Linked DNA regions of Homo sapiens. The protein of the gene in region 3 interacts with the protein of the main gene of each other region in a pairwise test. Each region holds a gene or a part of one and is shown on either strand. Other genes may lie near its edges.

The links.
Region 1: the proteins of EPN1 (region 3) and PLEKHB2 interact in binary tests that used the Homo sapiens proteins (3 or more experiments, as listed by UniProt).
Region 2: the proteins of EPN1 (region 3) and LITAF interact in binary tests that used the Homo sapiens proteins (3 or more experiments, as listed by UniProt).
Region 4: the proteins of EPN1 (region 3) and PHGDH interact in binary tests that used the Homo sapiens proteins (3 or more experiments, as listed by UniProt).

The regions. Positions count from the first base shown.
Region 1 is NC_000002.12:131,122,026-131,129,694, forward strand, and holds part of PLEKHB2 (pleckstrin homology domain-containing family B member 2), read left to right. Parts: intron 1-1,544; exon of another isoform or gene 1,545-1,642; intron 1,643-3,727; coding exon 3,728-3,880; intron 3,881-4,658; coding exon 4,659-4,761; intron 4,762-7,669. UniProt on the Homo sapiens protein: Involved in retrograde transport of recycling endosomes.
Region 2 is NC_000016.10:11,555,464-11,563,132, reverse strand, and holds part of LITAF (lipopolysaccharide-induced tumor necrosis factor-alpha factor), read left to right. Parts: intron 1-1,966; exon of another isoform or gene 1,967-1,987; intron 1,988-6,397; coding exon of another isoform or gene 6,398-6,402; coding exon 6,403-6,622; intron 6,623-7,669.
Region 3 is NC_000019.10:55,678,014-55,685,682, reverse strand, and holds part of EPN1 (epsin-1), read right to left. Parts: intron 7,157-7,669; coding exon of another isoform or gene 7,056-7,156; coding exon 6,828-7,055; intron 288-6,827; coding exon 38-287; intron 1-37. UniProt on the Homo sapiens protein: Binds to membranes enriched in phosphatidylinositol 4,5-bisphosphate (PtdIns(4,5)P2). Modifies membrane curvature and facilitates the formation of clathrin-coated invaginations. Regulates receptor-mediated endocytosis.
Region 4 is NC_000001.11:119,728,745-119,736,413, forward strand, and holds part of PHGDH (D-3-phosphoglycerate dehydrogenase), read left to right. Parts: exon of another isoform or gene 1-889; intron 890-1,195; exon of another isoform or gene 1,196-1,655; intron 1,656-5,889; coding exon 5,890-6,022; intron 6,023-6,550; coding exon 6,551-6,699; intron 6,700-7,669. UniProt on the Homo sapiens protein: Catalyzes the reversible oxidation of 3-phospho-D-glycerate to 3-phosphonooxypyruvate, the first step of the phosphorylated L-serine biosynthesis pathway.

The DNA.
Region 1 (7,669 bases), on a different chromosome or scaffold from region 3:
GTAGCTGGGATTACAGGCGCACGCCACCATGCCTGGCTAATTTTGTATTTTTAGTAGAGACGGAGTTTCTCCATGTTGAGCCTGGTCTCGAACTCCTGACCTCAGGTGGTCTGCCCGCCTCGGCCTCCCAAAGTGCTGGGATTACAGGCAAAGTGCTGGGATTACAGGCGTGAGCCACCGCGCCCGGCCTCATACTGTGTTTTAAAGTGGGAAGAACCAGTCTTATTTATTAAAAAATGCAAGCAGAATATTCTGCTATACTAGAAAGAGTGAAGTTAAGGGAAAAGTGACTACCATGTCATTTATGATTCTAGTCAAAAACTGAGCTGTATCACATACCATTGATTGTTCAGAGACTTGAGTTTATCTATGAGGGTTACTTTCAGAAATTTAGCTAAAGTCAAGTCTACCAGTAAGAATTGATGGCATACCTGAGATGGTTTATCAAAACTATTGTTTACGAATTGTTTGTGTTCCTGTTAAATAGATTTTATGTATATATTCTTAATTCTCACAACAGCTGTATGAGAGGTAAGTGGTATTATTTCCAGTTGAAGAAATTGAGATTCAGTGAGGTTAGGTACTTGTCTAAGTGTGAACTGTGGGTGACAAACCTACATTCAAAGTCAGGACTGTGTGATTTCAACACTGACATTATATGCACCCAGAGACCGGTCTTCAGCCTGTGTGTCTGTGACTAGTTCCATGTTCCCAACCTGGAGCTGAACTGTATGTCCCCTTGTCTGTTAGTCCTGTAGTCTTAGAATAGACAAAGGTGTCGTAATGTTAGCTTCACAAAGAAAGTCCTGGCTTGTTGAAGTCTAGCCCAAGTTTCCTAGTCTTGGGTTTTGCGGTCTCAACGTCCCCATGGTCAGGGGACATGGGGACCCTTGCTCAGACCTTGAGGGTGTGCCCTCCTTTGGCCCTTTGGATGTCCTTTGCCACACCCTTGTTTGAGGGCAAGCTTTCCCTTTTCCACCACAACTTGAAGTAAGTGCTCTGTCAACATAGTGATCAGTGACTCTTTTGACAATTTTGTCCTCCCCATCACGCCTAGCATGGTGATGTACACAAAATAGATGTACTTTAAATAAGTCACATAGACTTTTCCAGTGTTCTGGTCCATGGGTGTTTCAGAAGTGTGTATTCAGACGATTTACTCTGTATATAACCCCATCCCCATATGTATGGGTTAATTTTCCTTCTTTCCTGAAAGTAGAAGTATCAATGCCAGTAAAACGAGGTGAGATACATTATATTCACGGGGTTGTAGAGCAGCAGAGATACACATGTGATGTGGTCACAGGTAGGCAAAGCCAGCCTTGGGACTTATTTTCCTGCCATTGCCACATGTACTGTTGGGACCCAGTCCTGGCCTCTGGAGGACAGCCTGACTTGGGAGTCTGCAGCCAGGGCTTTGATGGCAGGTGAGATACTTGGGCAGAACTCCCTGACCCAGTGGTTCCACCTGTCTCTGTGTTTCTGTGGCTCTATTTAGTAGGGCTTTTTGTTTGTTTGAGACAGAGTCTTGCTTTGTCGCCCAGGCTGGAGTGCAATGGCATGATCTCAACTTACTGCAACCTCTGCCTCCTGGCTTCAAGCAATTTTCCTGCTTCAGCCTCCTGAGTAGCTGGGATTACAGGTGTGCGCCACCATGCCAGGCTAATTTTTATATCTTTAGTAGAGATGGGATTTCACCATGTTGGCCTTGCTGGTCTTGAACTTCTGACCTCCTGGTCCACCCCCCCCACCCCCCCCCCCGCCCCCCGCCCTCGGCCTCCCAAAGTGCTAGGATTACAGGCATGAGCCACTGTGCCTGGCTTTTTTTTTTTTTTCTTTTTAAGACAGGGTCTTGCTCTGTTGCCTAGGCTGGAGTGCAGTGGCGTGATAACTGCTCACTACAGCCTTGATCTTCCAGGTTCAGGTGGTCCTCCTGACTCAGACTCCCAAGTAGCTGGGACTGCTGGCTTGTGTTAGCATGTCTGGCTATTTTTCTCTTTGTAGAGACGGGATCTTGCTTTGTAGTCCAGGCTGGTCTCAAACTCCTGGGCTCAGGTGATCCTTCCACTTCAGCCTCCCAAAGTGCTGGAATTACAGATATGAGCCATTGCGCCCAGCCTATTTGGTAGTTTCTGCACAGCTCAGGTAGTCAAGTGGATGCTTGGGTATCACTTAGTGGTCAGTTAGGCAAGTGCAGTGGACACCCCTCCTGGTGAGGAGAGTGCCTGATACTACTGGCAGGAAAGCCGAATGGCGCATATCTGGTTGACACCAGTTGCAGGCACGGCAACATAAAGGGAAGTACACGAAATGGGATTGTGTGTGTTGGCCAAGAATGGGATGAGATGTACAGGAACAGAAGGTGTAGTGGGCAGTGAATGGATGTGAGGAAGGTAAAGAGATGACCGGAGCTACAACTGGCCTTTAAGTCCACTGCAGGGGTTTTCCCTTCATGCAGTCAAGGAAATTACTGTTTTATATACCAAGTTAAAGGAAATTACTGTTTTATATACCACGTTAAATACCTGGTCCAAGATCACAAATGAAAGGTTGAATTTGCTCAAGCTGACAGAAGTACGTGAGGTAGTAGGATGTGCACAGCATGGGAGGCCAGGCAGGGCCTGGTCTATATCCTGCTGTGCTCATTTATCCAGTGTATGCATCAGGAAGGGGGGAGCCTTCCACACTGTGGGCTTCTGTGGGAAATGGTAGGAAAGAGTATCTGTGAAAACTCTTAAGGACAAAGAAAAAAAACGTGTTTTTTCTTTTTTTTTTTTGGAGACGGAGTGTTGCTCTGTCCCCCAGGTTGGAGGGCAGTGGTGCGATCTTGGCTCACTGCAACCTCCACCTCCTGCGTTCAAGCGATTCTCCTGCCTCAGCCTCCCTAGTAGCTGGGATTACAGGTACGAGCCACCACGCCCAGCTAATTTTTTGTATTTTTAGAGATGGGATTTCACCATCGTGGCCAGGCTGGTCTCGAACTCCTGGCCTCAAGTGATCCATCTGCCTCGGCCTCCCAAAGTGCTGGGATTACACGCGTGAACCACCGTGCCTGGCCAAAATGTGTTTTTTCAAAAGAGAAAGATATTATTTTTATTTGCGTATAGAGACTTCACAGTCCAGCATTTTCTGATCAATCTGGCAATTTAGACAATATTTGGAAATTTAGAAAGTTGAAAAGTTTGAGAGGTTTAAAGTTTAGTACTGTATGAGGAATTAAATGTTAGATATGTTTCATTTGCTGAAAAGCAAGCTTTTTAATAGAAACCCTAACCGGAAAGTGTTGGAACTTCTAAGTTGGTTGGCAGCATTCTCTGTTGACAGTGTGTGCTGCATGCAGCCTGTTAAAGCACCAGTTGGCGGGCCCTGTGCTCTGCTTTCCCTTTCATTGTGAGGGACTGCTTTGGGTAATTCTATACAGGTGTAATTAAGGGGCCAGGGGAAGAGTTCTTTTTGTTTCTGCTGTGAATTAGAGGACTATGTCCTTGCTCTTTTGGCGCAAAGCCAACCTTTCAGATTTCTAAATTTTGAAGGCTGAGCATGGTGGCATGTGCCTGTAGTCGCAGCTAAACGGGAGGCTGAAATGGGAGGATTGCTTGAGCCCAGGAGTTCAAGGCTGCAGTGACCTATGATCATGTTTGTGAATAGCCACTGCATTCCAACTTGGGCGAAATAGTAAGACTGTCTCTAAAAAAAAAAAAACAACCGTACTATTTTTTTTTTCCAGGTACTATTTTGAAGCGCTGGAAGAAGAACTGGTTTGATCTGTGGTCGGATGGTCACCTGATCTATTATGATGACCAGACTCGGCAGAATATCGAGGATAAGGTCCACATGCCAATGGACTGCATCAACATCCGCACGGGGCAGGAATGTCGGGGTAAGCTGGCCTGTCTTGGCCAACTTCTGTCTTCTGCTCTTCCTCTGTCTTGCTGGGAGCTTGGTCCTCTTCCTTCCCTGTTCTGCTTTCATTAACAGATTGAAGAAGGGCTCCATCTCAGAGGGGCGACCACAGTGGGGCCCCAGGCACTTAGATTATGAACCACATGGTCGGGAAATATCAGTGTTCTCAGTCCACGTCCCTCGTTCTCGTGGAGAGGGAGCCAGAGCTCTGGGAACCTCAGGAAGCACAGGCCACCCTAGACTACGTTGATTTTGTACTCAGAAACTGGCTTCTGTTTGATGGTGACTCCAGTCAATTGCTTAAAATCTGGGATGTTGGCCAGGCATGGTGGCTCATGCCTGTAATCCCAGCACTTTGGGAGGCCGAGGTGGGTGGATCACGAGGGCAGGAGTTCAAGACCACCCTGGCCAAGATGGTGAAACCCCAACTCTACTAAAAATACAAAAAAATTAGCCAGGTGTGGTGGCAGGTGCCTGTAATCTGGCTACTCAGGAGGCTGAGGTAGAGAATTGCTTGAACCCGGGAGTCAGAGGTTGCAGTGAGCCGAATATATTTTGTGGACGTCATCTTGGCAGCTGGTCTTGTCAGTCAGCCTAGCTATGTTCTTTCTGCATTCTTGGAAAGGCAGAGGGTTCTTTCATAGATGTAGCACTTGATTTATTGTCTAGTCCTTTGCTTCTCTGAGCTGGTAGTTCTTAGAAAATGTAAGAAGAAATCCTGAAAAAAGTTCCTTTATTCTGCTTATTTTTCATAGATACTCAGCCCCCGGATGGAAAGTCAAAAGACTGCATGCTCCAGATTGTTTGTCGAGATGGGAAAACAATTAGTCTTTGTGCAGAAAGCACAGATGATTGCTTGTAAGTTTTGCTTTCTTATGTGTTTAATTTAAAAAGTATTTTCTATTTTAACTTCTGATTACCAAAAAATGAAAAGAAAGGGCGTGGAGTTTTCTTTCAGGCATCAGAATAAGGGACTCAGTGGATGTATGAGAGAAATGCAAGAGTCGCTTTTCCAATTCTAGTTTCTGCCTCTCTCAGACTGCCTAGGCCGATCCCATTGTGGTGAAAATGGCAGAAAGGAATAGCAGTCTCATCATGCTGTCTTTCATTATTAGATTCACAGTGGGTAACGGGCATAGTTGAAATAAAATGACCAGAAAAGCAAGAAAGTAAAGAGTAAGGAAACTGTCAGTTCCTAGGGCTGCTGTCACAAATTGCTGAACACTGAGTGACGGAAATGGCAGAAATTCATTGTCTCATAGTTCTGGAGGCTGGAAGTCTGGAATCAGTGTGTCAGCAGATCCTTGCTCCCTCTGAGATGCTGGGTAGGATCCTTTCTTGCCTCTTCCTAGCTTCTGGTGGTTGCTGGTAGTCCTTGGTGTTCTTTGGCTGACAGCCACATCACTCCGGTCTCTGCCTCTGTTGTCACATGGCCTTCTTCGGCTGTGTCTGTGTCCAGAATTCTCTTTTCTTATAAAGGACACCAATCATAATGGATTAAGGACCCACCTTAATTCACTATGACCTTATCTTAATTTGATTCCATATGCAAATATCCTATTTCCACATAAGGTCCCATTTGAGGGTACTGGGGATTAGGATTTATACATATCTTTTTCATGAGGACACAATTGAACCCATAATAGAGACTTTTGAGAAAGATGGTGAAATGGATTAGAGATCATCTTCCCTGAGGGGAAAACATTTCAATGGTGCAACCAAATAAAGAAGTTTGATCTCAAGCACAAACTACAAACAGTTAAAGAAAGAAATAGATGATTCTACTGAGATGTTCTTCAATCCTACCCGAATCCCAGAAGCAGTGACAAGATGAGTTAATTAAATCTTGCAAATTTTCAGTATTACCCTGTAATCTGGAGTGATGCTGATTAAGTGTAAGTTACTTTTTGGAAAAGCTAGGGAAAAAATCCTTAAGAATGTGATGTCCTTGGGGCCTCAGCAGAGGCTGGACGGTTCTCCCAGGACTCATCATTGCAGGGCAGTGAAAGGCACTGAAGCTCACAGGAGTTGGGTAATTTTCTGTCTGGTGAAGTGAGCCCTAGCATGGGACATTCAAAGGAATATGCTCAGAAGAGAGTGTAGGACCCAGAGTTTTCAGAAAAGACTTACTCGGTCTCAGAAGAAATGTCCTTCTCTTCTAGCCCTGTGCCCTCAGATTACAGAATGTTGATTGTGAGGGTAACACCTAGCCATCAAACTGTTGCTGGGCTGGACTGAGGTAGAACAGGGTGGAACTACCAGTTGATACCAGATTAGGTAGGAAGCGTGTCAAGGAGAAATAACTCATACTTTATGAGAGCAAACAGCAGTTTTAGATATCACTTCCCATGTTAAACGTGAGCAGGATGTAAAGAAGTGGCTTGGCAACTATGCAGATATACCATGAAGGAAAAATAAGAAAAGGAAAATGCAAGCCTCAGGAAAAGCTCCTAGAGTGGAGGAAAATAAAACCCAAGAAACAGGAGCAGAGTCTTCAGGAATGCTTTCCTGGCCACCATATTTAAAATTGTATCTCCCTGTCCCCATACACACTCACCATCTATCAACTATTTATCTTGTTCATCATCTGCTTTCATTAGAATATATGCTGTGTGAGGGCAGAGATTTATGTTTCTTTTCTGCTCTTTTGTGTCTGTAACTTAGAAGGTCTGTTGCTGTCAAGAGGGTGCCATTCACGTTATAATCTGAAGAAAGTGGTCTTCCCTTCAATACAACCCCAAATGAAAAGTGAATCATTGGCATGGAAGAAAAGACTGGAGATACTCTCAGTGACAGGAAAAAGATGAAAAGATCAGAGATATGTTAGACTAAAAAAAGTTCAGAAAGATTATTGATGTCCATAAAGTGTACAACCCAAAAGAGAGAATTACAAATCTAAGGCAAGAAAAATGTTCTGAAATAATCGAACTGAATTGGCAGACCAAAGTCCCTACTAGACTCTTCCACCTGATATGACAACAAAATCTATATAAGATATATGAATAATCCAGTATGATACCCTTTAGCAAAGTGAATGACAATGGTATGCCACATACAAAATCAGTTGGGGAATTTTGCAACTTAACTGCATTCCTTAGAAAGCTAGAACACTTGGGCTGGGTGTGGTGGCTCAAGCTTGTAATCCCAGCACTTTGGGAGGTCAAGGCGGATGGATCACCTGAGGTCAGGAGTTCGAGACCAGCCTGGCCAACATGGTGAAACCTCGTCTCTACTAAAAATACAAAAATTAGCCAGGCGTGGTGGCAGGCACCTGTAATCCCAGCTACTTGGGAGGCTGAGGCAGGAGAATGGCGTGAACCTGGGAGGTGGAGGTTGCGGTGAGCCAAGATCACACCACTGTACTCCAGCCTGGACAACAGAGTGAGACTCCATCTCAAAAAAAAAAAAAAAAAAAAAAAAAAAAGAAAGCCAGAACACTTGAAAATAAGTGAATGAATCTTTCAACTCAGGGAGATAGTAAAATGAGAATAAAACATAAAAGGAATTGATGAAGATAAGAGGGATAGGGTCAGTAAGAAAAGTAAGGGGTAAAGGAGTGAGGGAGTGCACAAGAGAACACTATTTTGTTTTTTGAGATGGAGTTTCGCTCTTGTTGCCCAGGCTAGAGTGCAATGGTATAATCTCCGCTCATTGCAACCTCTGCCTCCCGGGTTCAAGCACTTCTCCTGCCTCAGCCTCTGGAGTAGCTGAAATTACAGGCATGTGCCACCACGCCCAGCTAATTTTGTGTTTTTAGTAGAAGCTT
Region 2 (7,669 bases), on a different chromosome or scaffold from region 3:
TGTAGAGATATGGTCTCACTCTGTCACCCAGGCTGGAGTGCAGTGGTGTGATCACAGCTCACTGTAACCTCAAGCTCCCAGGCTCGAGCAAATCCTCCGACCTCAGCTTCCTTAATAGCTGGGACTACAAGTTTGTGCAACCGTGTCTGGCTAATATATATTTTTTAATTAAAAAAAATTTTTAAAGATTGTCTTTATATATGATTTTGTGACTCTATTTTTTTTTCTTTTGTTTTGAGACAAGGTCTTGCTCTGTCACCCAGGCTGGAGAGCAGTGGCGTGATCCTAGCTTATTGCAGTCTCAAACTCTTGGGCTCAAGTGATCCTCCTACCTTAGCCTCCAGAGCAGCCAGGACCACAGGCATCTGCCATAACGCCCGGCTAATTTTTGTACCATTTGTAGAGACATGGTCTGAATTTGTTTCCCAGACTGGTCTCAAACTCTTGGGCTCAAGTGATCTGCCCACGTCGGCCTCCCAAAGTGCTGGGATTACAGACGTGATCCAACATGCCTGGGCAAGAATACCTTTCGTTGAGCAAATTGTTGAGAGGTAGAATGAGGAAAACTTTTGGCTAAAAGGGACCCCAAGATATCCCAAGTGGCATATTTATAGATGTGAAAGTGATTCCACAGCTGGGCATGTCAGATCAAAATTCTCCATGGATCAGGAATGCCTCCTTTTCCTTTTCTGTCACCACCGGTCACATTTGGCTACTTAATTTCTGGGCTCCAGTGCAGCATGGAAACGCGAGGCCCTTTGTTCAAAAAGTGTTCGAATTTCTTTTCTTCCTTCTTTTTTTTTTTTTTTTTTTTTTTTTGAGACGGAGTCTCGCTCAGTCACCCAGGCTGGAGTGCAGTGACACGATCTCGGCTCACTGCAGCCTCCATCTCCCAGGTTCACAGTGTGGAGAGGCAGGGCACGGTGGCTCATGCCTGTAATCCCAGCACTTTGAGAGGCTGAGGCAGGAGGATCACTTGAGCCCAGGAGTTTATGACCATCCTGGGCAGCTTAGCAAGACCCTGTCTCTAAGTAAAATTAAAAAGTTATAGCCAGGTATGGTGACACACACCTGTAGTCCCACCTACTCCAGAGGCTGAGACAGGAGGATTGTTTGAGTCTACGAGTTTCAGGCTGTGGCGAGCTATGATCATGCCACTGTACTCCAGCCTGGGCAATAGAGTGAGACCCTGTTTCTCTCTTTCTTTCTCCCTTTCCCTCTTTTTTAAAAAAAAGACATTGTGGAGAGTGTGTGTGTGAGTTTAGGGTGAGGGGGACTAATTGCTGTTCTAAGAGTTTCGTAGTTGGGGGGGTGATAAGGAGGGGATGGGGGGTGATGAGGAGAGGGATGGTTGGTGGGTGGGCCTCTTATCCCAGGAGATAAGCCAAATTGAAATGAAGGCGCAAAACAAGGGAAACAAAATGGGACTAACCGTGGTGGCATTTCCTGGCCTTGGGGCCTGAGGGAGGGAAGACTGTGGAATTTATTTAGAAAACTTCCAAACCAGCGGTTATGAGTCTTTTTTACTATTCTGGCCTGTTGCTCTTGTTCTTTTCAGAATTATAAATGTGTTTGTGTGGCTGTTTGATCTCAAAGCAATGCTCAGAAGATGCAGTGTCTCGAAATCCCAGAAGATAAGATGTTACCACATGAAAGATGGTCTCAATAAAGGGGGAGAGGCGGTGGCCGAGGCCTTAATTTCCAAAACGAGAAACTGGGGCCCACCCATCTTTTAAAGGTCGTCAAAAGAAAGCTCCCATCCTCCCATCCCCCACACCTGTGTGTTGACTCTGTAAAGATGCAGTTTCCTCACTTTGGGAGGAGAGGCCGTGGTTTTTGCAGGAATTGCGCCGCTGCCGAATTCAGCCATTGCCTCTTGGAGGTTTAGGATGCCCCAGGCCTTGTTTTCCCTCAAAGCATTCCATTGGCAATCACGACCAACCATGCTCCTTGAGGATTTCTGTACACACTGGCTTTTCCTGGTCTTGTAAGTTTTTATACGAGTCAGTTTTCACCATAAATCATGGAGGTGGGTCTGGGGCTGTGACGGCGAGTCCTCGACGTTCAACCCGGATGTAGGTCACTCCAGACCCCCAGGGTGCCCTGTCGTTCCCTTTGCTGGAAGTTTCAACAAAGCCAGAAGCAGATGTCAGGGGTTCCCGGGGTCATCTGGGAGGGATGTCCGCTGAGTTTAGGGGCAAGCTGGGACTGCTGCATTTCTGTTCCTGTACGTCAGAGGAAACTAGCAACACGCCTCAAACCACTTTACACCATGTCTCAGTGTTAAACCAGAGCCTGTTTTCACAAACACCTCCTGCGATCTCATTACAGCCCCACCCTGCCCTCCTGCTTCTGTGGCCTTCTCTACTTTGCTTCTTGCTCCTCTTAAAGACCTTCTGTCTCATCTGTCTTTTCTGGGGTTGGGCCTTTCCCCTTCTCTATAACCTTCTGTGACTCCCACGGCTCACAGCTTTGCTGTATATTAGGAGCAGAAAGCAAGCTTCATTACATCATTTAAAATTTTTTAGTAGCTACATTTTTTTTTTTTTTGAGATGGAATCTCGCTCTGTGGCCCAGGCTGGAGTGCAGTGGTGTGATCTCAGCTCGCTGCAACCTCTGCCTCCCAGGTTAAGTGCTGGGATTACAGGCGCACGCCACCAGACCTGGCTAATTTCTGTATTTTTAGTAGAGATGGGGTTTCACCATGTTGGCCAGGCTGGTCTCGAACTCCTTACCTCAAATGATCCACCCATCTCAGCCTCCCAAAGTGCTGGGATTACAGGCATGAGCCACCGTGCCTGGCCGCCACATTTAATGTATTTATTTATTGATTTTTGAGACAGAGTCTCACTCTGTTGCCCAGGCTAGAGTGCAATGGCGCAATCTCAGCTCCCTGCAACCTCCACCTCCCGTGTTCAAGTGATTATCCTGCCTCAGCCTCCTGAGTAGCTGGGATTACAGGCGCCCAATATCACACCTGGCTAATTTTTGTATTTTTAGTAGAGACGGGGTTTCACCATGTTGGCCAGGCTGGTCTCAAACTCCTGACCTCAGGCGATCCGTCTGCCTTGGCCTCCCAAAGTACTGGGATTATAGTCGTGAGCCACTGTGTCTGGCCTCTTTTTTATTTATTTTGTTTTTATTTATTTATTTTTGAGACAGTCTCGCCCAGGCTGGAGTGCAGTGGCGCAGTCACGGCTCACTTGAACTCCTGGGTTTAAGTGATTCTCCCACCTCAGCCTCCCAAGTAGCTGGGACCACAGGGGTGCACCACCATGTCTGGCTAATTTTTAATTTTTTTGTAGAGACAGTGTCTCCCTATGTTGCTCAGGCTGATCTAGAATGCCTGGGCTCAAGCCATCCTCCTGCCTCAGCCTCCCAAAGTGCTGGGATGACAGGTGTAAGCCACCATGCCCGGCCTAGTAGCCACATTTTGAAAGGTACAAAGAAACAGGTGAAATTAACAATACATTTTACTTAACTTCATATATCTAAGCTGTGGTCATTTTAATATATCAATATAAGAAATTATTAATGAGATATTTTACATTCATTTTTTCCTACTAAGTTTTGAAACCCAGGGTGTATTTTTACATTGACATTCTATCCCAAATTGAATGCTAAATTTTTATCAAAAAACATTTTGATCTATATTCAGTGTTCATCAAATTTACCATTGAAAAAATGATTCATATATTCAAGTTGTCCCAGACTTACATAAAAGCTTCCCAATAATTGAATTGTTAGTTTTCACATTTAAATTGCTTAAACTTAAATACAAGTAAAAATTCATTGGCAAGTAAAAAGATGAAAAAGAAGCTAAAACAAAAAAAATTCAGTTCTTCACTCACACTAGCTCATTTCTTTTTTTCTTTTAGACATAGAGTGTCGCTCTGTCACCCAGGCTAGAGTGCAGTGGCATGATCATGGCTCACTGTAGCCTCCACCTGCTAGGCTCAAGTGATCCTCCTACCTCAGCCTCCTGGGTAGCTGGGACCAGAAGTGTGCAACACCATGCCTGGCTAATTTTTTTAATTTTTAAAATTTTGTAGAGAGAGGGTATCACTATGTTGTCTAGGCTGGTCTTGAACTCCTGGGCTCAAGTAATCCCACTGCCTCGACCTCCCAAAGTGCTGGGATTGCAGTCATGAGCCCCCGTGCCCGGCCACAAGCCACATTTTAGACGCCCAATAACCTTACGTGACTGGTGGCTGCTATATTGGGCAGCAGATACAGAGCATTTCCATCCTCACAGAAGATTCTGTTGGACAGCACTCTGATAGAAAGAAGTCTTGAACACGTGTTCTCCAAGGGACTTTCAAAGTTTTCTAGAATGCAGCCCCAACCTATCTTTACTTACTGACTTTCTTTTTATCACGTTCACTCCCCCGCCTCTATTCCACTTTGTTTCGTTTGTTTGTTTTTGAGACAGAGTCTCGCTCTGTTTCCCAGGCTGGAGTGCAGTGGAGTGATCATGGCTCACTGCAGCCTCAACCTCCTAGGATTAAGCAATCCTCCTGCCTCAGCCTCCTAAGTAGCTGGGATTACAGGTGTGTGCCACTACACCTGGCTACTTTTTTTATTCGTTGTAGAGACAGGGTCTCACTATGTTGCCCAGGCTGGTGGTGAATTCCTGGGCTCAAGTGATCCTCCTGCCTCAACCTCCCAAAGTACTGGGATTACAGGCATGAGCCACTGCACCCAGCCCTTTTGTTTTGTTTTGTTTTAGAGATGGGGGTCTCACCATGTTGCCCAGGTTAGTCTTGAGATCCTGGGCTCAGGCTATCCTGCCACCTCGGCTCCACAGAGTGCTGGGATTACAGGTGAGCCACCGCACCTGGTCTCTGTTTCCACTTTGAGGTGAATACCCTTTCTTCGGTTCCTCCAGAGAAGTCTCCTCTTTGGGGCTTGGTTTAGAGGCAGGGCTTCTGAGAAGGACTCTACCCTTCTCCCTGCAGTGGGATTAATTGCTGCCTTGGCTTCCCACGAGTTCTAGAAAATGAGGCAGACAGTGTCGGGAGAGGGGAGTGGTGGTTGTGGCTCGCTGCCCCGGAGCCTCATTTCCCATTTCTCCCGAGACAGGTTTGAATGGCTCTTCTAAGGCAGCCTGAACCCTGCCCAGTTAGAAAAACAGCCACACAAAGAACAGCACTGTGTCTGCTTCCAGCTGCCCCATGGCTGCTGGATCATGGAACATCAGACAGGAGCACACTCTGGGTGCAGGGTGTAATTCTAGGCGAGCAGCAGCTCTGCCAGGGCTGGAGGGAAATCCTTTCTTTGCCCTCACAAAAGAAAATGTGTGCCTGGCTGCTCTGGTGCTCATTTTTCAAAATGAGAACTGGAGTCTATGTGTATTTCCTTCTTAAAAAGCTATAACACAGAGGCTGGGCGCGGTGGCTCATGCCTTTAATCCCAGCACATTGGGAAGCCAAGGCGGGAGGTTCACTTGCCCCCAGGAGTACAAGACCAGCCTAGATAGCAAAGTGAGACCCCCATCTCTACAAAAAATGAAAACATTAGCCGGGCGGGGGGGCACATGCCTGTAGTCCCAGCTACCTGGGAGGCTGAGGCAGGAAGATCACCTGAGCCTGGGTGGTGGAGGCTGCAGTGAGCTGAGATCACACCACTGCACTGTAGCCTGGGTGACAGATCTTGTCTCAAAAAAATAAAACAAAACAAAAAACAAAACTATAACACACATACAAAAAAGTATATACATTTTAATTGTACAACTGAGATTTTTACAGACTGAACATACCTCTGTAACCAGCCCCCAGGTGAAGAAAGAGAACAGGACCCGCCCCCCGCAAAGGCCCCCTCATACCCCTTTCCAGATTCTTCTTCCTCTTCCAAGAGTAACCGCTCCATGGATTCATTTTGCCTATTTCTGACCTTTATTTAAATAGCATCATACAGTGTGCATTTTGTGGCATCTGGCCCCTTTGCTATTTGTGATAATTTGTGGTTGGTTTTTGAATGCCTTTATCTTTTCCGTTACCTGAAACAGTTAGTGAAAACCACAGTGGTTTAAAAACCAAAAAAACCACAAAAAAACAAACAAAAAAAAACAACGAAGAAGAAACACCAGATATGGAAGGTACGTAGGTCATTGTCTGGTAATGGTTTAAGATGTGAAGAAGAAATGACCCTTATTTGGTTGATGTTTCCACTTTGGATTTTCCAGGTTTTGGTGATTTTGGGTAGTAATTATTTACTTTTTGATTAATTCTGGGGTCTTGAAGGGACATTAACCCTCTTCCTAGCTTTTGGACAAAGCTGGATGGAAGTCATTTTCTCAGAATTTCTGTTTGCCAGAAAGAAAATTGAAGACTTAGGTGAAAAAGAGAGGGAGAGATCAACTGAATTTCTTATCTGGTATGTTCTGTTTCTGTTTTAGGTAAAATGTCGGTTCCAGGACCTTACCAGGCGGCCACTGGGCCTTCCTCAGCACCATCCGCACCTCCATCCTATGAAGAGACAGTGGCTGTTAACAGTTATTACCCCACACCTCCAGCTCCCATGCCTGGGCCAACTACGGGGCTTGTGACGGGGCCTGATGGGAAGGGCATGAATCCTCCTTCGTATTATACCCAGCCAGCGCCCATCCCCAATAACAATCCAAGTACGTGTGGCCTCCCAGGCCCCCCTTACCATTCCTTGGCCCTCCACCCTGGGAATCAGGAGAGTGACCGAAGTGACTCTGCCAAAGAGTCTAAGTGAAGTGCCAGTACGTTCCAGTTTTACCCCCTTACCTTGAAATTCCACACGCAGTCTTTTAGATTCCATGTTGGTGAGGCTCACAGCTTTTCCGTAATAAAGTATGGTTTAGGATCTTTCCCATGGTCATCATATACGAATCTTTTGGCACATCTCTTGGAGGCACAACCAACTTTCTTCTGAGAATGGGAGTTTGTGTCTTAAGGGCCCGCACACTTCCTCCTGAGGTCTGATGCAGAACTTCTGCCCTGAGGCCAGGGCCGAGGTAGGAATAGGGAGGAGAAGAAACCGTCCTGAGCAATGTGTGATTGTGTTTTCATACCAGCTCACCCTCAATGCAAGTTGCTCTTCTGCTTTTGAGCAACTAGATGGTCCCTGTCCTTTGGTGCTTCCTTCCGCCCAAGGGTGCCCTGGTATGTCACTGCTTTAGTATCACAGGTAGTTCTGAAAGAAATCTTTAGCTCAGAGAGGGGGCCCGTGAATCAGACTGCCTGGGTTCACATAACCTCCTTGTGCCTCAGCTTCCCCATTTGTAAAATAGGTTTCATCAAGTACCTATTTATAAATATCAGTGAGTTGTTAACATGAGAGGAAGTTGTGTGTGCCAAATACAGAGTACTCGTTTGATAAAAGTGAACTCTTATTGTTGTGTTCAAGTTATTTTGAGCTGGAAGAGGATGAGATAATGACTTTAGATTCTTAGACCATCCTGTGATCAATAAATAGTTTCTTTTTCTTTTTCTTTTTTTTTTTTTTTGAGACAGGGTCTCACCATGTTGCCCAGGTTGGAGTGCAGTGGTGCAGTCATGGCTCGCTATAGCCTGGACCTCCTGGGCTCAAGTGATCCTCCCACTTCAGTCTCTGGAATAGCTGAGACTACAGGCATACAGCACCACACCTGGCTAATTTTTAAATTTTTGTGTAAATCGGGTCTCACTGTTTTTCCAGGCTG
Region 3 (7,669 bases):
GACTCTAGGCCGTCAGGGGCCGCAGGGAGGGACTCACCCGTGGCGGTCTGTGCCAGCTTTTCCTTGGTCTTGAGCGCGTGCGCCCGCTCTTCCCGCAGCCGGTCCTCGTCGCGCAGCAGGGCCACCAGCTGCTTAGCTTTCTCACGCACGTTCACGCCCTGGTCCTTGCCGTCGCGGTCCACGTACTGGAAGTCCTTCAGCGTCTGCACGGCGTACATGTTCTCCTTGCACTGCTGCGACACGCGCTCCGAGCCGGTCTTGATGAGGTACTCCATCAGCGTCATGGCCTGCGAGCGGGCACGGGGATGCCCGGTCAGCACGCCGGGCACAAGGCGGGCCAGAGACTGCCTGCGACGCGGGCTCTGGGGCGGCCGACTGGGCGCAAGGCCCACAACCCACCTGTCGCCAGTGGGTGGACACACATCTGTCCCCACAGAATACGACACGGCCATGCAAAGGAATGAACACAGACCCACGCTGTGACGGGGACCAGCCGCGGAGGTACTGCGCTCAGCGACAGACGCCAGCACAGAACGCCACACAGCCTACGGTTCCATCGACGTGAATCATCCAGAATGGGCAAATCCAGAGAGACGGAGTGGATTGTGGGTTGCCAGGGGTGGAGGGAGGGATGGAGAGGGACCACCTGAAGGCTATGGGTTTTCCTTCTGGGGCAATGAAGACGTTCTGGAGCTGGACAGAGGTGGTCGCCCAGCACTGTGAATGGGCCGAAGGCCACTGAACTGTGCGATATGAAGGGGGCTGCACAGTGTAGGAGCTCCATCTCAATCCAAATAAAAGAGGAAATGGCAGCTACAGGCACCACAGCCGCCATGGGCATCGCCTGGCATCCTGGAGCCCTGTCTATTTCTTTACAACTAAAATCTAAAGTAACATGGCCAAGAAAACCACATTAGTTAAATCACAATGAAGGGGGTCTTAGTACTAGTTTGAAATGTGTATTTCTGACTGTAAAACCTCACGCTGGTACTAACAGCCTGGAGCAGTAGTTTATCACCTCTGCAAGAAGGGAAGAGATCCACGCAAGGGCCTGTGTAGGCCCGGGCTCTCTTGGGAGGGGCACCCAGGTTCCACACCACCAGGAGCAAAAGGACAGGGCGGAGGGAACATTATCGTTCAATCTGCACCCTTTGGTATGTTTGTATTTTATAATACGAAAACAAACTCCCTTTCAACAAGTTGAAATTAATAGTGGGGGCGGGGGGACCAAGGTCTCTGAGGCTCTCCCTAGCTCAGGCTCAAGTCCTGGGCTTGAGGAGTCATGGCCCCCTTAAGGCTCTGCAGGGGGTGTCTTGGTCACTGACCTCAAAAAAAGGCACAACTTTGATTCTGCAGGGGATTCCAGGGCCTTCACAGAGCCACAGAAACCCACCCAGGGCTCCTAGGGGAAGAGTCAGCTATCACAGCTAAGCTCCGTCTGAACCAAGGAGAAATCTGCCAGGAAAGATGCCAGGGCCATTCATATCTCCTCACCCTCTGAGGCAGCTGGACCTAGCTCTGGCAAGGCCTTTCAAAGGTGTGTTAACAGTATTTACAGTGTAATCAGAGATTAGTCTTTAACCGGCCCTCAAGGTATTTACACGAAAGAAAGGAAAGCAGGTAAGCCATTGCTATGCCTGATCACACCCCAAGCCAAGAGGCAGTCCCAGGTCCACAACTCCTGGGGCCCTTGTGTTTTGGAATTCAGAATTTTCCTGAGTTCAGACCAGGAAAATAACGCACATACAACACATAAGAGAACGCGCTGGGCAGAGTCGTGCCAACAGCCACACTACTGTGGGACCAACAGACACCATGTGAACGACCTCACTTCAGTCTGGGTCAGACTTTGTGCCGAACGGATCATGAAACACTTTCGTTTCCAGAGCTCTCTGGACTTTGGTATCGCAGCTAAAAAGATTGTGAAGCAGGAAATAGTGCGAATACCCACGCACAGTGAAATGCATACATCAACTATGGCACGCTCACACAGCGGGACTACCACATACACTGAAATAAAAGAGAAATGAGGCCAGGTGTGGTGGCTCACGCCTATAATCCCGGCACTATGGGAGGCTGAGGCAGGTGGACCACCCGAGGTCAGGGGTTCGAGACCAGCCTGGCCAACATGATGAAACCTGTTTCTACTAAAAACACAAAACAACTGGCCAGGTGTGGCGGTGCACACCTGTAATCCCAGCTACTCAGGAGGCTGAGGTGGGAGGATCCCGTGGATCAGGGAGGCAGAGGTGATAGTGAGCCAAGAGCACGCCACTGTACTCCAGCCTGGGAGACAGAGTGAGACTCCATTTAAAAATAAATAAATAAGGCCGGGCATGGTGGCTCCCACCTATAATCTTACCATTTTGAGAGGCCAAGGCGGGCAGATCACAAGGTCAGGAGTTTGAGACCAGCCTGGCCAACATGGTGAAACACCATCTCTACTAAAAATACAAAAAATTAGCCAGGCATTGTGGCATGCGCCTGTAATCCCAGCTACTCAGGAGGCTGAGGCAGGAGAATCGCTTGATCTTGGGAGGCAGAGGTTGCAGTGAGCCAAGATAGCACCACTGCACTCCAGCTTGGGCAACAAGAGCGAAACTCCATTTCAAGAAAAAACAAAAAACAGGCTGGGCGCGGTGGCTCACACCTGTAATCCCAGCACTTTGGGAGGCCAAGGCGGGCGGATCACGAGGTCAGAAGTTCGAGACCAGCCTGGCCAATATGGTGAAACCCCATCTCTACTAAAAATACAAAAATTAGCCAGGCGTGGTGGCAAGTACCTGTAATCCCAGCTACTCGGGAGGCTAAGGCAGGAGAATTGCTTGAACCTGGGAGGCAGAAGTTGCAGTGAGCCGAGGTGGTGCCACTGCACTCCAGCCTGGGCAACACAGCGAGACTCCGTCTCATAAATAAATAAATAAGAAACAATAATTAAATAAATATATAAAATCGGGTGCAGTGGCAAAATCCTGTAACCCCAGTGCTTTGAGAGGCTAAAGTCGGTGGATCGCTTGAGTCCAGGAGTTCAAGACCATCGTGGGTGACATGGCAAAACCCCAGCTCTAAAAAAATAAATAAATAAAATAACAAAAAATTAGCTAGGCGTGGTGGCACATGCGTGTCATCCCTGCTACTTGGGAGGCTGTGGCAGGAGGATTGCTTAAGCCCGGGAGGCAGAGGCTACAGTGAGCCGAGAACATGTCAACGCACTCCAGCCTGGGCAACAGTGAGACTTTCTCAAAATAAATGAACAACTGCTTTATGCAACAGCACGGTCAACCTTGCTGACCTGATGGTGATGGTGAGCAAAAGAAGCCAGACACAAAAGACCACGCGTGTGACTCCACATATATAAAGCTCAAGAACAGTCTTGGCAGACAGAAATCAGACACGGTGCTGTGGGAGACAGGTCTCCTGAGGAAACCTGGAAGGCTGAATGCATCCTCTACCTCCCTCTAGGTGAAGGCTACACAGGTGTCCACATGCGTAACAGCTGTGTTATACATTCATGATGTGCTTAGTATACAACTTCTTAATGAAAAATTTAAAACCTTATTTTAGAAGTGAGCAAGTGGGCCAGGTGTAGTGGCTCATGACTATAATCCCAGCCCTTTGGGAAGCCAAGGCAAGAGGATCGCTTGAGCCCAGGAGTTCAAGACCAGCCTGGGCAACACAGTGAGACTGCCATCTCTACAAAAAAATTTAAAATATCTTAAAATTAGCCGGGCATGGTGGTGTGTGCCTGTGGTCCCAGCTATTCCTCAACCATGCTTGGAGCCCAGGAGGTCAAGGCTCAGTGAGCTATGACTGTACTGCTGGATTCCAGCCTGGGCTACAGAGCAACACTTTGTCTCTAAAAAAGTTAAAAAAAAAAAAAGTTTGCAAAATAAGTCATTATTTCTCCTTTGCTTTTCTGAAAACAACCAAAAAGCAGTGGGCAACTGCATAAAATGATAGTCCTTCTTAATGTTAAAGACAGCTTTATCAAGGACATCCTGCAATGCAGAAATAAAGTTTAAAACAGGGATCAGCAAACATTTCTGTAAGGAGCCAGATGAAAAACATTTCAGTTTTTCAGGCCATATACTCTCTGTCTCAACTACTTCACAGCCACAGATGAATGGGCCTGGCTGTGTTCCAATAAAACTTTATTTACAAACACAGGCTGTGAGTGGGATTTCACCAGTGGGCTGTACTTTGCTGACCCCTGGTTTAAAGCCAAGACTGAGACCCTGCATTCCTCAGAAGTGAGGTGGCAGTGCAGGGCCCAGAGGGTGGGCTCGGGGCTCCTCTTGGCTCTACCACCTCCTGCGAGGTAGAGCTGAGCTCCTTTATGTCTCAGTTCCCTCATCTGGAAAACAGAGGAAAAGGAGAAAAAGAACTTCCTTTACAGGGTAACCGTGGATTTCATGAGAACCTGTGTGTGCTACACGTACAAGGTACCAAATAAACGCCGGCCCTTACTCACCAATACTCACCCCCAAGGCCATGCAGGGAGGCCGTGCAGAGCCAGGCCTGCAAGGCCCCCACAGCTCACCCTCCTTCTCCACGGGGACAATAAGGCCCACAAAGTGCCAGCCAGCAGGGCCACAGGGTGGGACAGCCTGGGCTCTGAACAGATGGGCCCAAGCCCCAGCTCCCCCACGAGCCTCGGCAGGCCACCTCCCCCGTCTCTGGGCCTCAGTTTCCCCATCCATCAAAGTGGAAAGACTGCTCCTGCACAACCCACCACCTGGGGCTGAAGTGACAAGATGAGACCATGTGGCGAAGGGATGGTGAGAAGCAAGAGGACTCGCCCTCATGCCAGAACAGGTCAGCACAGAGGGCTCCGGAGAGGGCCAAAGGGGGTGTAGCAGCTTCACAGTGGCTCAGGGCCTCTGGGCCTGTGGGGTTGTCCTCATCACCCGTACTTCCAGAAGGGGACTGCGGGATAGAAGTGGTCAGCCAGGAAGGGAGGCGCTGGCTAGACGTGGACCCAGGGACCCCCTCCTGGACCCCTGCCCTGTGCCTATGCTCAGCTATCGGCGCATGCCGCAGCAGGGACAACAGTGACACGTGCTGACCTCACAAAGCTGCTCTCAGGACAGTGTCCAGCAGGCAGCACAAGCAGCAACCAAAGCAGGTTTCCAGACGCCATCAACCCTCCCCCGGGGAACTGAGGCTGAACCCCACCCCAGCATGAGGAACCAGTGGTTCAGGGTGGAGCGGGAACCCCGTGTCCTCAGCCACATGGGCTGGGGATCCTACAGGCTCTGCTGTGGGGATCATAGAAAGGAGAGTCCCAAGAATCAAGAGATGCTGCAGGGATGGCGGATACAGCAGGAACAGCCAGGCCTGGGGAGAGTCCCAGAGGGGCTGCAAAAACCATAGGGGAGGTCTTGGGGGTGACAAAAACCTTCTATGCCTTGACTGTGATGACAGTTATGAAATATGTGCATCTGTCAGAATCCAGAGAACTCTATCTCGAAAGGCTGGGTTTCACTGTGTGCAAATTACACCTCAGTAAAGCAGCCCAAGCCCCGCCTGGCACTGGAGGCCACGTCCCCTCTCCTGCACTGCCCTGTCCTGCCGTCCACCCTGGCTGCCAGCACCACATGCTCCCCAGCAGACTCTCAGGCCTTGGCACCTGCCAGCCCTGCCCACAGGCCACTCTGTGTCTGCCCCCAGCAGCATCACCCCAGCCACTGACCAGGAAGGATGTGCGTCTGGGGCCCCTCTGGATTCATCCCCTCTGCACACCCACCCCTCCAGCCCCATCCCTCCTCGTTGCCTCCAGAGAGGCTCACCTGCACCTCCAGGGTTTTCCAAGATTCTCAACTAAACAAACGCCACCCAGCCCTTCACAATAAATGACCAATAACTGATTCAATCTATGACTCAACCCAATCCTGGTGTGTCGGGATGGGTATGAAAACGAGTCACAGGAAACGAGCCTCAACCCCTGCTCCCATGTGTAAGTGCTGCAACGCTCCAGGCCTCAGCCTCCTCATCTGTGAGTGGAGGGAACCACCCTCACCTAGGCAGAAGTCTCAAAGATCAGCAAGGACAGGGACCTCCGCCAGAGCAGGCCCAGGTCTAAGCGCATGAGGGTGGGGCCTTGTTGGTCTGGTGCACCAAGACACCCAGAGCGGGCCTTCTGCAGATGCTTGCCGACGGGACCGCAACAGCAGGAGTCTAACACTCACCAGCCCCTGCCCCAAGTCAGACGTGAATCGGCTCCATGGGCCCTCACAGAGGGAGATTCAGGGACGAGCCTGAGATCCCGCCACTGGGAGTATAACCCGGCCCCAGCCCATGTCCTTGGCCACTTTGCCGTAACACGAGGAACACAGTAACCAAAGACCAAAGGTGGGGATGCCAAGGCCCCTGGACCCCAAGAGCAGCAAACTGAAAACCCAGTCGCTGAGTCCTGCTCACAGGCACGACAGCGTTCATCCCCAGCGTGGCATCGCCTGTGCCACGGGGAGCACACACCTGCCTGAGAGGCATTCATAGATGGGGCCCAGAGCGGAAACTTGGCTGCTGTGAGGAAAGGAACTGGGTGTCTGGGCACACAGAAGAGATGGGCACCGTGGGCCCTCTCAGGCCTCCTCAGCACATGAATCTTACGTACGCACCACTCACTCAAAAACAGATTTTAACCACAAGGCTCCAAACTTCTTAGCCTTATATTCGTTGCCTTCATTAAACAAAAAGAGAGATTTTACTCTTCTCCAGTTCCTCTTGAGAACCGGGATGCCATCCCAGGCAGGGTGCACAACACGGGCTCCTGTCCTCCCACCTGAGCCCCTGCACCTGCCCGGGGAGGAGAGCAGGATGCTGACCTTGTAAACGTGACGCCAGTTCTTGCCATGGTCATTGAGCCGCTTCCAGATCATGCTCATGATCTCCGAGAAGGCGACAACGTTGTAGGTGAGGTCGGCAATCTCTGACATGAGGGAGCTGGATGGGCCCCAGGGGTCATTGCTCGTGGCCTCTCGAACCTTGATCTCCGCCTCTGAGTAGTTGTGGACGATGTTCTTCATCTGGCGCCTCAAGGACGAGGTCGACATGGTGCCCGGCTGCAGCAGCAAGGGGCACAGGGCCCCGATGCGTGGAGAGATGGGGCGACTCCCGGACGAAGGCTGCGGCAGGTGCTGGCAGGTCACCGCATCTGCGAGGGGAAGAGGACCTCTGGAAACACAAATGGGACATGGCCTGCCCAGAGCCCTCAGGGTCAAAGATGAGTTCCTAACTGTGGCCCAGAAGGCTCTGTCCCTTGTTAACCTCTAGGTCTCAAAGTAACCCCATCCATGTTTCAGTTCCTCAAACAGGCTGCCTCCTTCCTGCTGGGGCCCCTGCTCAGTGAGGCAGAGTATATGCAGTGGCAGATCGCAGCCCCACAACCTGGCTCAGCACTTCCTGGCAAGGCCACCCTGGGCGGGCTGGATCTTTTGCACCTCAGCTTTCTCTTCTGTCAAATGGGGCTCCATGCGGTCATCTAGAGAACTGACGCCCTGTAAACACCGGCAGCGCATCAGGAGGCCCTCCGTCCTGCCCATGCGCTCTTCCTTCTTCCTCATCCAGGGATATCCACTCACCCCAAGGGCTCTGCTTACACTTCCCAGGTGCACACCCAAACATCACAGTCACCTATCCCTGGGGCCTCATCAGTAAACTCAGTCTC
Region 4 (7,669 bases), on a different chromosome or scaffold from region 3:
CTCTCTGTTCACTTTCTGTTTTAGGGAATTACAGGGATTATGGGGTCAAACTGCAGCCAGGAAGTCTTTAAACATTAGGAGATCAGTTTTGACAACCAGATCATGTCAAATCTAGAAAAGTTTACATAGAGCTGCTATGGAACTCTCCCTTTTTCTACATCCCTCCTACCTTCTTAGAGTTAGAAGGGATCTTAATAGATTAACCCTTAATTTTACATTGACATCTAGAATTTGTAAGCTTATGCCTAAGGACTCATAGCAAATGGACAGTAGCCTAGAGCCTGGTGAGCATCCCATTGTACACATTGAATATTATCCTCTCCCTCCTGCCTCCACTCCCCATCTTATTTATTTAAGTCAGCCAGATATCTTTCCTAAGCCTCTGCACTGAGAAGGGCCAGGTGTATTCTTGATCCCTGGACTCCTGAGAGAGGCAGATGTAGCCCAGCAGGATCATTGATCATGTAAACAAACCACAGCCTTGCCCTCTGTGCAGGGATGGTGGGATGCCATAAGCCACAAAGAGCACTCCCTCCTCCATCCTCTTTTGTAAGGGATCAAGGGTCAAGGTTTAGTCCATGGAGAATTTTGATATAAAAGGCAGAGGTCAGGAGTTAAGTAAAACTAAGAGCACTCATAGCCAAATAGGTGAGCATTTCATTGATGAAGCAGTAACTGGGAGACAGGCTCCAGACCAGTGGCCGTTCCAAGGCTCCTGCCCCCTTCCCCAGGGGGTCCTCTTCCCCATGACTCCCCTTCCCCAGGCTTCCTTCTCCGTGGCACCACTACACATCAATATTCCTGGCAATATTCTTCATCATGGAGACTTCGGCAGCGACTTCAACCAGATGAAAAGCCCCACCTCATTCCTGAATGATTGAGGTGCTAGGTAAGCTTGTCTGTCCATCTGGCACTGCCCAACTCTCTACCCTGGGATGCTTCCAAGAGGTGCATGGGTACCTGGGACCTTGAGCATCAGTGTCAGGAAATGGCTGACACCTCTCGTGCATGTGTTTGATTGAAAGAGATGTCTACGGCCTGCTCATTTCAGTGTTAATCTGTGCCTCAGAGCAGGTCACCCACTGAATGTTTTATTCCCATTCCCAGCATGGTGTGGAGGGTGCCAGTGCCTTCACTTTGCATTTCTTCTGTCCAGATGTCTCTGGAGGGTCATTCTTAACTGTCTTGCTTCCAGAACATGCTCTTTGTAAACCCCTGAAACATGGCTTGGATCATTCCGTCTCCCACCTCAGCCCCTCCGGAGCTGCCTGGACCTCATCATTCCGGAGAGTCTAAGTGGCCTCTTCTCGTGCTCAGCTGCTTACCTCAACCACGTCATTATCATACTTTTGAGTCTGGATGAATTTTGTCTTAGGGCGGAGAGCTCATCAGTTCTACCGGTCTTGGAGAACAAGATTTTCTAAAGGGAAAGGAAGATTCTTGAACATATTGTGAAAGAGATGTATAAGCACCCAGACAGGAAATGAGGATAAGTGTTTATTAAACACAAGTTATTTCATACTAGCCTCATCCTCTTTTTGGAAACCATTATTAAACTGGTAGAGTATGGAAATCCCTAGATGTCAGATACCCGGACTATTTAAAGTTATGTTTTAATCATGTAATAAAGGAATGCATTCTCATATAAATTAAAACTTGGACAAGGCTATACTTGATTACCATCTGAACCCTAGTCTCCTCACGGTAAACATCAGTTTAGCATGTCATCCGAGACTTTTCTATGCATTTGCACAGAATGCATACAGTTCCATGCCTGTGGATGGATTCTTTGGCTGCAAACAATAGAATATTGTTTGTGATGTTAAGAAAAAAACATGTTTATCTCAGAACAACTAAATCTAGCATATTTTTAAACAGTTGTGTGGAATTTTATTGTGCAGATAAATTGCTTTTTATTTGGCCATTCTCTCAATGATGGGTATTTAGATTGTGTATAGATATGGACTTTGGTAAGACATCTTTCATGATTCCCTCGGGGTTCGGATGGAGCCCCTTGAGCTTGGTGCTATTGAAGGGATTAGTGCTTGGTGCTGTTGTGGAATGGGCCACCTCAGTTTGGAGGGAGATAGTATGCAATAGTGCTCCACCTTGCCCACCATTCTCATCAACAGCCTGAACCATGTGTCATTTGTGGATGGCAGGAAGCAAGGAGAGGTAGTTAATACTTAAGGGTGCAGAATCAGGTCCAAAAAGACATATGAAGGCTAGAATGGTTGGGCACCCTCACAGGAAATTTAGCTAGAATACATTTCTGCACCCTACTTGTGGGTCCAAAAAGCAGCTAGACAAGTTTTAGATGTAGAAGCATTTGTCAAAAGCTTTTCTGGGGGAGCAGGGCTTTGGTTTACAAAAGAGCAGTGTGGTTGTCAGTGGCATAGCTGATAGAAAAGGTAACCTGACATTTGGCAGCATTAAAAGAAGTATGGCTTCCGGAGCAAGGGAGGTGACATTCCTCACACTGTGGCCTGACCTGCAGCCTACCTGTGGTCTGAGTCATACAGGTCTTAACGCTCTATACTGTTGTGTCTGCGAGAGACTTTTTCTCAATAGTGTTGCTGAATGACAGGTCGTGACCTCAGAGACTCAGCTCATTCATGCTGGTGTGTTCCTTAGAATGTGTTAAGAGGCACAAACCAATCAAGAAGCGAGCCTTGTGCTTTATGATCAAGGTTTTCCTTGAGGGAACAGACAAGCATCTCTTAACAGTTTCTTTGTAGCCAGCGTTGTGATGAATCCAACTTTAGCCCAGAGGGTTGGATGTTGAACCTGAGGCACCAGTTATCACCGATTTTTTCAGGTCCAGCTAATGTTTGCTGAGGTCTACTGTGTCGGTTCCTGTGCTTGAAATGACTCTGCAGGGTCAGAATTATTATCCCAGGTTTACAGATAAGGAAACTGAGGCCCAGGAAGGTTCTATGATATGCTGAAGATAATGCAACTATGAACTGGTGAATTTCGGCTCAGCCTTCCAGGCTGGCATTCTTTGCCCAGTACCACTTAACTTTATTCATGATCCATTTTAGGTAAACAGTCCCTGTGCCATGCCGGTATGCTTAGCTATTCCAAAGACAGATACTCTCCAGGATGGGCAGCTCCTATCTCAGTGTGTTACCTGGAATGCTTACTGCCCAGAGCAGTGATTCTCAAACTCAAGAGCCTCGGGTTCTGGCAAGGTGCCTTAGGGACACAGGTGGGAGCAAGGAGGGGCCCAGGGAGACAGCAGGTGGTGGCACATTGAGCCTTTACCTCTGCAGCTTTGAATTGACCTATTTTTATATTTGGGTCTCTGTTTAAGATTTCATTGCCGTGGTAGGGAGAGTTCCAATGCTAAACTAAAAATTCAGCTGTGGGGCAGAGAGAGCACGTGACGGTGAGGGTTCTTCTTCAGAGCCTCTTTAACTGGGAGGCCTCCTTGCTCTCCTCTTTGCTCTGCTGAGCCAGCAAGGCCCTGCAGCCAGCATACCAGCCTCTCAGGGCTGTCTTCTGTGACCTCAGGCAGGTAGGAGCCACCAGCTGCCCTGGAGTCCTGCTTAGAAAGTGAGGCTTCCTCTGTTGCCTCAACATCAGGAGTCTGCCCTGGGGCTGGGATTGAGGTGAGGGAACCCCTTCATGTTTCTCCCCAAGGCTTCTCTCCGGGAGTAGTCTTTGAATGGTGGGTACCCAGAGGTGCTCCAATGTCTGTATATTAGGACATCTGACCCTTTCCAGGACACACCAGGACCCTGACAGGCACGTGTGTCCTGGGCCTGTTGTCACCCTTTCCATCCCCTCAGTGTTGTCTCCTAGTGTCGGAACCCCAACCCCCAGCTGAGTTCAGCTCTTCTCTGCCCTGGTTATCTCAAATGGAAAATGAGAACAGAGGTTTGCTCAGCCAGATTCCTTCCCTGCAGTCATCTGCAGATAAATGAGATACTCTCTGTGAAAGAAGGAAGCTGAGTCAGTGCTTCGCTCACCCCTGAGGAAGATGCTCACCTGCTCCTCTCCCCAACCCCCTCCCTCCAGCCCCAGTCACCTGTCTGTGGAGGGGGCCAGGTTCAGCCTGCAGGGTCCTTCCTCCTGCCAGCCCCCAGGTTGTTCTTGGCTCCTGAGCATGGAGTAGACGTCAGTCAGGCTGGACCTTGTGATCTCTATTGGTGTTCCCTTCCTCTCCCCACTCCATATGAGAAAAAAAAATACATCTGGATTAGAGATGAACAGGGCCATTGTTCTGGCCGGCCTCAGGGCCAGCAGACGAAGAAGACTTGTGACAACGATGGCAGGGATCCCATCTCCTCGCCTGGACACTTTCTCCTCCCCACCAGAAATGAGTAGGTTACAGCCGAGGGGAGCAGCAGTGTCTGAAAAAGACCACCAGCGTTCTGAGCTGGAGGTTCTTATAGGGCGTGGGAGAGGCAGCATCTTTCCCCAAAACCTGCCTGATGGTTGGTGTGGGGCCACTTGGCTTTCCTTATTCCACAAGGCTAATGATGAAAAAAGGGATCCAGAGGCTTCACCTTAATCATAACCATTTTAGCTTCTGCCCTAGAATTACTGAATTTGAAGTCCTCTTTCCTATTACGTTCTTTTTTATTTTGTTTTATTTTTTTTTTTTTTTCTGAGACATCTTGTTCTGTCACCCAGGCTGGAGTGCAGTGGCACAATCTTGGCTCACTGCAGCCTCAACCTCCTAGGCCCAAGTGATCCTCCTGCCTCAGCCTTCTGGGTGGCACAGGTGCATGCCACCAAACTTGGCTAGTTTTTTAAATTTTTTGTAGGGGGGGGGGTCTGACTATGTTTCTCCAGCTAGTCTCTGACTCCTGGGGTCAAATGATCCTCCTGCCTCAGCCTCCCAAAGTGCTGGGATTATAGGTGTGAGCAATGGCACCCATCTTTCCCATTATATTCTAAAGTATCTATACTGTATCCCTAATTTCAAAAGTAATTTATGAATAATGTAGTAGAAAACTTGAAAGCACAGGAAAGCAAAAAGGAGAAAAATAATTCCACTACCCAGAGACAACCGCTGTTAAAGTACTATGCTGTGTATTCTTTGTTTTTGTCTAATCCTGGGCTCACTCTTTACATTCTGTCTCGGGGTTAAGGGGGATTTCTCTTCAAATAATTCCCAGTGATTGAATGTGAGAGTGAGAGATGGCTGCAATCATCTGCCCAGCTCCTTTATTTAGGGTTGAGGACCCAGGTCCAGGGGAACTGACCTGTACCTTTCCACACAGTGGGCAGTGACTGGGGGAGGACACAGGTCAGGCTTCCTGATTTAGAGGGCATGCAGTCTTGCTCCCACTCTGGGTCCTGCCTTGTACCCCTGTTGTCCTCCTCCTTCGCTTCTGCTCACTCTGTTTTAGTACCTGATGCACCTGTTTCCTGGACTGGACCCTCCAGCTGCAGCTGCCATTTCTCCTTCTCCCTTTCCTGGCTGTCCGCTCCCTACATGACTGCCCTCCCTCCCTCAGGACTCCCTGCTTTCTAAGGACTTCCAAGCTCCACCTTGTCCAGACCTATATGAGCTATTGTTGCATCTGTGTGTGATCACAGCATGGAGGCAGACGCACCTTCTTTTGAGCTCTGGCTGTGCCCCTCCTCATTGTGGAAGCCCTGCTTCCCTCAGCTCTCAAGCAGACAAGAACAGTCCCAGCATCATTGTGTGGTCATGAGAATTAATTAAGCTGATCATGGTACTTAGTATATGGTAAATAGTACTTAGTATGTGGAACATGGTACTTAGTGTATGGTAAATTAACTGGAGAATTAATTAAGCTGAGCATGGTAGTTAGTATATGGTAAATGCTCAAAAAATGTTTGCCATTCTTAATAATAACAATACTAATAATTAAGAATGACACTTCCTCCCTCTCTCTTGCTTCCAACCAGACTATAGGGTATGACCCCATCATTTCCCCAGAGGTCTCGGCCTCCTTTGGTGTTCAGCAGCTGCCCCTGGAGGAGATCTGGCCTCTCTGTGATTTCATCACTGTGCACACTCCTCTCCTGCCCTCCACGACAGGTAGGTGTGTCCTTACATTGTGGATTGGTCACAGAAGCCACAGACCAGTTAACAAATGGGCCCTCCATCTGGGCCTTCCCCAGACAGTGGTAACCAGCTGTGGGGAGAGGTCCACCTGGGTCCTGCAGAGGCTGGTGTTTTGTTAGACACCCCTACGTTGGATAGGGGAGGGTGAGCCAGCTAGAAGTGCTTGGGGTCTAGGTAAGCTGGGCACAGGGACAACCAGTGACCCCCATGGATGCTTTCTGCAGCCCCTGCAGGGCTTTCTGATTCCCAGACCCACTTGAAACAGTAATATCTCAAGAATTTCTAAGATGTTTCTAAACTGAGTCTGGCCCAGATCCATAACAGGGACTCCTGCCCCAGAGCATCTGAGGAGGAAGAGATGAGAGCAAAGAGGCTGCCGTCCAGCAGGAGAGAGGCTCTGGGAAAGAGCTGGCTCAAGGAAAGGGAAGACCTCTGGAAGCCAGGGATGAGCGTGGGGATCCTGGTGCTGCCCCAGCAGGAAGATGCTTCGCTTTCTTCCAGGCTTGCTGAATGACAACACCTTTGCCCAGTGCAAGAAGGGGGTGCGTGTGGTGAACTGTGCCCGTGGAGGGATCGTGGACGAAGGCGCCCTGCTCCGGGCCCTGCAGTCTGGCCAGTGTGCCGGGGCTGCACTGGACGTGTTTACGGAAGTAAGTGCCTGGCAGCCTCAGCGTCAGGAGGACGGGAGAGATAGGGAGCAGAGAGGCCCATGGCAGGGAAAGCCTGGCGTTTTACAGAAAGCCTCTAGCTTATTGTCTCTTTCATCCATGGTAAAAGGAGAAAACTGTGTTGCCAAAAACACACCTTTGTGGTTTGAGGAGTCCTTGCGGAGCCTGGTATGGAGGCAGCTATGTGGTTTTCTGCAAAACTCGGGCTTTAAAGGGGACCCAGTTCCTGGTTCCGGGCTTCTCAGACTGCTAACATATTGACAAAGATAAAGCCACAAATCAGTTCTGAAGTTGAGGGTCTGGAGCAGGAAGAGAGGGGGCTTTAGTGTATAGTTGAGGGACCCTGATGGAAATGCAGTCCCATTGCCAAGAAAATGTCCTTTTCAGTGTCCATGGGCATTCTTTTTCCCTTCTTCTCTTGCTGGGTGGACAGAAGCCCGAGGATACTGGCAGTATTCCCTCAGGGTCCTCGGGGTGGGCTGCTTTCCCAGCTGGAGCAGAGGCTCAGCCTCACACCAGATCCAGTAGGGAAGAGTGCATTTGCACTCGAATCCTTTTGGCTCCTCTCCTGAAAGATCCTGTCCCCAACATTGGAGCTTCCCCTGGTGAGGAAGGGGAAAGGACATGGACTTTGGATTAGGTAGTTGTGGTTCGCAGGTTACTAGCTGTGTGTCCTTGGAAGGTCACTGGCCCTCTCTGAGCCCCTGTAGCACTCACTGTGTACTCCCAGCCCAGGGCACACAGTGCCTTTTGGTTTGTAACCTTGGTCATCTTTCTCAGCTCTTAGATCATAAGCTCCCTGAAGGCAGGGCAAGCCTTGTCCATCTTTGTATCACCATCCTCCCTAACACAGCACCTTCTCCTGCTCTCTTCAGCATCCTTGAACCACTTGCTGGTGGTACTTACATGGTTACATGTGGCCGGGACTCACAGGATTACATGGTTACATGTG